Linked DNA regions of Homo sapiens: region 1 is linked to region 2. A link means that fine-mapping ties the variant in region 2 to the expression of a gene that starts in the linked region. Tissue or cell type: whole blood. Region 2 holds a variant in brackets; the other region holds the start of a gene. All regions are shown on one strand. Distances are from middle to middle.

Region 1 (4,402 bases), 41 kb before region 2:
GAGGAGGGAGAGAAAGAGACAGAGGCATAACAAGTCTCACATTCCAGAAATATCTCTTCCTCAATGCCCCAACTCTGGCAACTTTTGTCATGTTCAGAGTGGGTGCAGGCGGGGAAAAGAGGAAATGCCTAAAGAAGTTGCTCACATTAAGGATGGTTTGTTGGCTAGGAGTCAGAAAGACTAAGCTGGAAGGGACTGCGTTCCAGCCTTGCTTTGGGCTCTGTCACATATTACTGCCCATCCTGGTGGTAGGGGGTGTTGCTGTGAGCTCCCTGGGAGCTACGTCTACAGATAGTTCCTGATGAGGCAGACAATGGTGGCCTAAGCAAAGTTCAACCAGAAGGTGAGAGTGAGTAGGGGTGGGCTATAGCACAGGCTTCATACTCACCAGCAGCTGGTCATGACGTAGAGTAACCAAAGGTACAGGAAAACCAATGTGATAACATAGAACACTTTTCATCTATTACCTCAGTCACGCCTAGCAGTCACCCATCAGCCACCAGCTTGTTCTATCAGATAACCAGTAGGGTGGATGGCACAAGCCCAGGAAGGCAGCTGGGATCCAGTTGGTGGTAGTCTGGAATGTCCAATTTGGGTTGATGGCCGGGTTAAGATATCAGTTTTGTCTTGCAGTGGTAATACCCAAATAGCTTACCATAAGTACATGGGTATCAGGACACAGCCAGCATAAAGTATGAAGCCCAATCAGTTATTTGTGAAAATGTATCAAGATTCTTTGTGGTACAGAACCACTTAAATTGGGAGAAGAGCATGGTCACAGATAGGGTCCAAGCCATGCAAAGAAAGGCAGTATGGTACACTATATCTATAGTATCATACGCTTGGCATAGAAGCCGTAGAAGGCCATGCACTTGAAACATGTTAACACAATGCAGAAAAGCATGAAGGCCCAGAGGAAGAATGGCACAGGCAGGTAAGCCAACAATCTTGCAACCGATTACTGAAGATTTAGAACCAAAGGAAAAGATAATCCACAGTATGAAGAGAAAGCAGATGGAAGACTGCATGCTGTTGGCCAAGCATAGGTCCAAGAGGAGGTGGTAAGGAAACTTGTGCAGAAGCTTCTCACAGGACAGAGATTAGCCAGACTGGAACCTGAAGGATCTGGCGCTCTCCACTGGCTGCCTTGGTGGGCCTCGAATTCCTCTACGGGGCCCTTCACCCATCAGGTAGTATTGTAGGGGATTGGGCCACAGTTCTCCTTTGATAATCTCTGCAATTCTGTCGAATTCTAGAAGGCTGTGGTCTGAAAACCAGTTGAAGAAACTAGGGATAGTGTTCCCTTCCCGGTTTCTGTGGATATGAGCCTGGGGGTCTTGGCCTCGGTGCCAGCGGATTGGAGTGGAAAGAGACACCACCCGGCCAGAGGATCTGCGTTCATATTCCTTGACAAGCCCCTCATTTCGGAAGTAGGGGTTGCCCTGAAAGATGAACTTGAATTTGCAGCCTGCTCTGGGGTGTTTAAGCTCCTCCACCTCCAAATTGATCATGTACCTCAGCATGTCTTCATCTTGGCCACTGATCATAGGTGACAGCTGGGGGTGGTTTCGAAAGGCAGTAACCCAGAAACCTGGGATATTCTGGATAATGAAACTTCTGCGCTGCATGTGGAGCCTTCGCATGCGGCCAAACTTGCGCTCAAGCTGAAGGAAGGCCCTGTCAGCCTGGGCATTTACGTTTGACAACTCTTGATCGATGGCCTCCAGTGAGTCCATGCAGTTATTGATCTTCGGGGCCCTGGGCCGTGTCTCCTCTTTCACCCCTCCTGCCACCTTTTTTTCCTTCTGCACTACCTTCTTTTCCTCCATCGCCGCCCCTGCTTCTCCCTCCTTTTCCACTGCTGCCGAGATGGCGCGTTTTTTAGTCGTCACTTCCTTGGCCTTCTTCCCCGGTATCATCTGAGACCCCAAGCCCCCTGCGCCACAGGCTTCTAGAGCCTTCTGCCCAGCAGGGCCACGGGGCTCTCCAAGCTGACAGCCATTTTTCTGGCTGCTGTCAGCAGCCTCGGCGGCAGAGGCTGCTTCCAGACCTTTCGTAGAAGGTGGAGCATCCTCCTGCCCGGCTTTGGTCGCTGCACCGCCGCGACTCCCGGCAACTGGGACGCGGAGCGCGGGGCCACAGTCGACAGGATCCTGGGATGCACCCCCCTCCGCAACGGTCTCCAGGCTGCCCCCACCTGTGTTCGCCATCACCTGTGTCGCCTCGGTTTCTTCACGGAGCCCTTGGCACTGGTCTCGGTCCGGATCTCCTGAGGCATGGTCGGGAGCAGCCAGGCCGCCGGTTTGGGCGAGAGGGAGCTTGTTGCCCCCATCCAGGCCGCTCATTTTGGAAGAAGTCAGACTAGTGGGAGAGGGAGAGTTCCTTGTCCTCCGCAGCGGCCGAGCTCTGCCCGAAACGTCTAGCACCACCCCTCCTTTACTCTCGGCGGTGCTACCATGGCAACTGGTGATGTCAGGGCGGTAGCGTCGTAACATCGCGCGAGAACTCTCTGCGCGGTTGACTACGCTTATCAATCCATCGTATTCCTTTGTCTTCTTGTCACAAAAAGAATTTCGTCAGTCTGGAAGGGGAGTTTTACTTACGTAAATGGATGTAGACCAGACTCAAGCATGTAAGAACTGTGTTAATGTGGATTTCTAAGCCTCTGAATGAATTTCTAAGGCACCTAACCTATTGTTTCTGAAAATATTTACTTTAAGGTGAGTTACTGTCTATTCAAGTCAGTTCATAGGGCTTCTCCTGAGTAGGAAAGTGGATTCACGAACTCACAGGCCTTCCTTCTTTTAAGGTGTGGATTCATGGCTATTACCAAAGAATTTAAATGAGCAGAGTTTGATTTTAAAGAGAAGTGTTGCTGTGTTGTTATTTTTAAAATTAAGGAGCAGCTGAAAGGCAAACTTCTCTCATCCTAACAAGACATAATAAAGGAATATTTCAATTTGTCTTACAGATTTTAAAGTTTATATAATTTGGCCAACATCTACAAAACAAGTGGACAATATTTCCTCTTCACTTTTAACAAAGAGTAGCAAAATGTTTTTCCTTACGTAGAGGTGACTGGCACACGAGCACAAATTTAGGCTTTTAAGCATTACTGAAAGAAATATCTCAGGGGATTTTAATTTCTAAACTGATGCATATGTTCTTTTCCTCAGGTTACAATCTTAATCTAAAAGTGGTTCCTGCTTCATAATGCCTGTGGACATGAAGCTAACAAATCTTTTCAAAATGTGTTCATGTGGTAATTCACTGCAGCACAGGAGCAATAATCAGCTATGTGCAGGCATCTATGCTACTGTCTCTTAAAATACTTTAAAAGTAAGGTTAGTTATTGTCTATTCGAGTCAGTTAGCTCTTACAATTCATTTGATAGTGATTATCAGTACAATATATTAGTTTGTTGGAGTGTGAGAATAATGGTGTTAATCCTTAGAAAAATGCAAGACCAAAGGGAAATTTAAATTTTGCATATTTATGTTTAATGTCAAATTTATATTCAAATAAACGGTTATGATTATAACTCTTTGTAAAAGAAACTCCATTTTAAGCCCCCCAGATTATGATCACTTTCAAATACAGGCTCAGAAGTACAGATTTAGAGAAAAAGGATTCCTCTTAGAGGAATACATCATATATACTGAGACTTCTAGCGAGGGAAGGAGTGTAGTTCTGGTTCAACTAAGATAAAGTACTGATGAAAGGTCACTGGCAGACAATACGGAGAAACAGCCTGCCTTGCAGGATTTTTTGTATGCCTAGTCAGCCTACCCAAGGACAATGTGTCCAGAATGACCTCTTTACTGCCTGCCAGCTAATCAGTTATCCCATAAGAAATATGCAAACAAGATTCACACAGCAGAGAGCAATTATTTTTCTCTCCCTCTTTCCTCTTTGTCTTAATAAACGCTCTTTTTTTATTTGTGGGGTGAAATCAATCTATTGAGGTATCGTCTTTGTAAACACATAAACAGCGTGCTATAATTGACTTTGTGACTTTGAATTATTGACACTGCTCTGTTTCTTTTCCAAAGAACCTTTGCACTGTTGAAAGAGTAACTTTTCCATTATAACCTGAGTCAAGATGAAGAGAAGCAGGGAATACTGAATGAAAGTTACTTTTCCATGCAGCAGGAAAAAACAAGTTTGCTACTATACAAATTTATAGAAAAGTATAAAATTACATGTGAACTTCTTTTTCTTTTTGTGTGTGCCAAAGTTTTTTAAAGATTTATATCTCTACTACTCAAAGCATTCCCATCTCTAGCCTGTATTAGTTCTGTCACCTGAATCATTTTTCACTCATAACCACCTGGCCATTCTTTAACACTCAGTTCATGTAGATTGTACTAGGCAGTTTAAATACATTAGATTTTATAAACAA
Region 2 (4,402 bases):
AACACTGACGTGAAAGAAACAGATGAGGTGGCACAAGTAGAGGAAACTGAGAAATAGCCATTAGAGGTAGGGAAAGAACCAGAAGAGTGTTGTTTCAGTATGCAAGGGAAGAATGGACTTCAGGAAGCTAAGGTTCAAGGGATGCAGCCATATTGAGTGAGATGAAGACTGGGAAGAAAAGTTTCCGAATTGGGCGGCAGCTATACAGCATGGGTGTCTTTAGTGAGAGCAATTTCAGAAAAGTAGCAAGACAGAAAAATTGCAGAGTTGAAAAAATGAATGATAAATGAACATATAGATAGTGTGTGAGGCCAGTTCTTTCATAATTGTCAGTATAGAAAAGGGGAAAGACTGGATGACAAGTTCAAGGAGATGCAGGGTTGAGGGAAGAATGTTTGTAGGGAGCAGCATTGTTGGGAGCAGAGTAAGGATCTGATTATTACACTGAAGTGTTGAGGAAGCAAACAAACAAAAAAAAAGAAAACAAACTGAATGTCAGTAAGTAGAAGAAAGGTTGGATAAATTATGGCATGTTTATACAACTGAATATTACGTAACCTTTAAAAGGAATAAATTGGATCCAAAGTAGTGACCTGGAAAAGCATCCATGTTAATTAGAAAGATGTAAAAGAACATTGCAGACCAATAAGTATATGCTAATTATATTTTAATAAATATTAGCTGACACCCTTGTATCTATATAAATGCAAGAAATATTAAGAAAGGATGTGTACCCAGTTGCCAACAGTGGTGATCTCTGGGGGATGAGGATGGGAAGGGGACTTTAGCTTATTGCTTCTTAGAATTTTAAAGAGAGGTGGTGACATTAGGAATGACTTTTACACATTGGATTTAAAATATTTTTCAGACAAACATTAAAGAAAACCCTCTCATACAATGATGAGATAATTTAACTTTATATAATTAACTACAGAATTCAAAGAAGAAAATAACATAAACGAACACATTTGCTTTAATAAGTTATTGGGCTTGTATTTAAAGCTGAAGCAAAAACATTTGCTCAGATGTGATATTGAGTTCAAGGTGAATTAAAGGTTTTTCCTTTTCTTTTTTTCTTTTTTTTTTTTGACACGGAGTCTTGCTCTGTCACCAGACTCGAGTGCAGTGGCGTGATCTCAGCTCACTACAACCTCTGCCTCCCAGGTTCAAGCTATTCTCCTGCCTCAGACTCCCAAGTAATTGGGACTACAGGTGTGCTCCACCATGCCCAGCTAATTTTTGTACTTTTGGGAGAGACAGGGTTTCACCATGATGGTTTGTTTTTCTTAATTCTGGAAGATGAGGCCAATATTTGTTTGAAGAGTGATTTAAAATAGCTGAAATTCAGTCAAAAACTTAATTTACTGGGTTGTACCTCTTTATTATGAAGTATTGGTTGCTTTTAAAATGAGCTAGAGGCCAGACATGGTAGCTCACATCTATAATCTTAACACTTTCGGAGACAAAGGCAACAAGATTGCTTGAGCTCAGGAGTTCAAGATCAGCCTAGGAAACATAGCGAGACTTTGGCTGTACTAACAATAGAAAAATTAGTCAGGCATGGTGGTGTCTGGAGGCTGAACTGGGAGGATCACCTGAGCCAGGGAGATCAAGGCTGCAGTGAGCTATGATCACGCCACTGCACTCCAGCCTGGGTGACAGAATGAGACGTTGCCTCAAAAAGAAATAAAAAGAGCTAGAAGTGACCTTGGTGATCTATTTGGTAATATTTCTTTTGTCTAAAGTATGTTTTTAAAATATATATACAATTAGTAACTAGCTAATAGTTAATAAATATGTCTATTTTTAGAAAAATTTATTATTTTATTTTCTATTTTTGAGACAAGGTCTCACTCTGTCACCCAGGCTGGAGTGCAGTGGCATGATCACAGTTCTCTGCAGCCTCGACCTCCTGGGCTCAAGCAATCCTCCCACCTCAGCTTCCCAAGTAGCTAGGACTACAGGCATGTGCCACCATGCCAGTTAATTTTTTAATTTTTTGTAGAGATGAGGTCTTGCTATGCTGCCCAGGCTGGTCTTGAACTCCTGGGCTCAAGGGATCCTTTTGGTTCAGCCTCCCAAAGTGTTGGGATTATAGGAGTGAGCCACTGTGCCTGGCCAAAAATGATTTTATATGGAACACTTAGAAGCAGGGTGCTGGAATTAGCAAAAAACAGTTTTCAAGTTAAACGTAGTTTAGTAATCAGAATTGTATTGACAGTAACAGATTCATTGTAAAATA[G/C]AAATGCTCCTATATTCATACATTAGTTTAAGTAAGTTAAATAATCTGTAAACCAACTTTCTTGGATTGAATTCTGAGGTCAAGCCAGGTTAATAGAAGGGTCAGGGAAGATAGGAAAGCCATAAATATGGTTCTTAAAGCTTGTGGGCACAAGAACTCTTGGAATGAAGGTAGATAGGGGAAGTATTTGTAAAGGGAAGTGAGAAGATGTCAGGAAAGTCCTGCAAGTGGGTACCTGAATCATGGCATTACCAGTGGTTTAGCATATCAGAACCTCAGCCCAGAGTTTCACCATCTAGTCTCTGGTCCCATCCCGAAGCCAGAAAGAACATAAGGAAAAAGAGGAGATGTGAATAACAAGTCTCTCCTCCAATTTCCTCTCACCCCATCTTTATTACCAATTACCAGTGGAAAGCAAAATGATATATGCAGAACACCCCATCTCAAAGCCCTAAAGGTGGTTAAATGAGTAGACTACTCACCAACTCCTTACTGAGCACTTCCTATAGTAAGTATGATAAGTGATGAGGATTTAACGATAAAAGACACTGTTCATGCCCTCGAGAGACTGCCCACGGTGGGGTGGAGGGTGATTTGGAAATAAATCATACTGCAGTGTGAAAACAGGAATATTAGGTATATTCTACCAAGTACAAGCTGAACACAGAAAAAAAGACCTACTGATTGCTGTGGCGGTTGGAGGAGCTTCCTAGAAGAAGAAAGGACACTTGTGCTAGGACTTGAAGGCAGAAGAAAGGTGGGAGAGGAGAAGATGGGAGGAGATAGGTTCAGGGAACAGCCTAGGCAAAGGTGTGGAGGGTTGTGGGGAGAGAGCGGGAGAGTGGATGAGGAAGGAAGGCTTGAATGTGGCTTGGCTTATATTTGAAGGACTTTGAGACTCGCTGTGGAGTATTATGTTCTGCTGTGGTCATCCTATTAAACCCTGACTACATCCATTGATTTTTTTTCCTATTTAAAATTTCCTATTTAAAATATTTCCTTCCAAACATTTTTTAATTTCAAGGTCTTTATGTAAGATGAGATGTGATCCAACAACTATACTAGCCCACATGTGAAATGACAAGGCAGAAACCACAATACAGAAAATAAAATAAAACAGCCTTAATTTAAATATTTAAAGTAGAGCTGTCTAGATTTTCAGAAAGCAATAATGTGTCTCCTGGAAATTGACTGATATGTTTTTTGACACTGTTAGTTTCAGTTATTTTTCAAGGCATCACTAAACCCTGGAAGAGAACAGTCTTAATTTATAGTTTAAGTAGGTTTATTTAAGGGGAAAAAGAAAATTGCAAGATGTCATTTTATTTCCATTCCAAAAATAAGCATAACATTATCATAGAAGCCTCTTTGAAAGTAGAACTTCATTAATTGGGACTCCACTGAGGAAAATTTTTCCATAATCTCATCAGTTTTGCCTTTGCTTAGCAAACCATCATTTTATGATTATCATAAACCAATAATAAACTAGGCATATTGGAATTATATTTACAATATGAAAGACAGCACTTTTCATTCAACCTCATCAATCTTGGAAACCTATTTTTTCATTAAATAAATATTTCTGAAATCACTAAAATGTGCCTGGTGACATTCTACATACTGGGGATATATAGCTGTCCCTTGGTATCCAGGGGAATTGGTTCCAGTACCCCCTCAGATACCAAAATCCATGGATGCTGAAGTCCTTGATAGAAAATGATGTAGTATTTGTGTATAACCTACACACATCCTACCCTATACTTCAAATCATCTCTACATTATTCATCATATCTAATACAATGTAAATGATATGTAAACAATGTTATACTGTATTATTTTTTAATTTGTATTATTGTTTACTGTTACGTATTTTCTTGAAATATTTTCAATTCATGGTTGGTTAAATCTGTAGATGTAGAACCCTTGGATATGAAGGGTGGACTGTGGGGTTGAACAAGACATGCTAAATCCCTGCCTATTAGGAGTTTATATTTTGATGCGAGGAGAAAGATAATAAATATGAAAACATAAAAAGATAATTTGAAGGACCCAAGAAATGCTCTAAATAAAGTAATTTAAAAGTGTGACTGGGGCTAAGGTTTTGTGTGGAGGTGATATTTAAGTTAGACCTGAGTGGTGAGAAGGTGTCAGATGTAAAGA

Evidence for each region. PIP is the estimated chance that this variant, and not a neighbour inherited with it, causes the effect. A credible set is the group of variants that fine-mapping cannot tell apart.
Region 1: TSPYL4 starts here. The variant in region 2 is the best candidate, but not a certain one, in a credible set for the expression of TSPYL4 in whole blood (INTERVAL, PIP 0.53).

The regions. Positions count from the first base shown.
Region 1 is chr6:116,251,664-116,256,065 of GRCh38, forward strand. TSPYL4 (TSPY like 4) reads right to left here and starts at 2,412. Exons shown (of 1, transcript NM_021648.5): 1 at 1-2,412. The coding sequence starts at 2,345. The coding sequence ends at 1,101. It also overlaps a transcript of DSE not described here. RefSeq lists enhancers at 1,984-2,143, 2,554-2,783.
Region 2 is chr6:116,292,203-116,296,604 of GRCh38, forward strand. It overlaps a transcript of DSE not described here. Among named protein-coding and RNA genes, the nearest start is that of TSPYL1, 14 kb to the left of the region's middle. The variant G/C (reference allele first, on the strand shown) is at 2,243.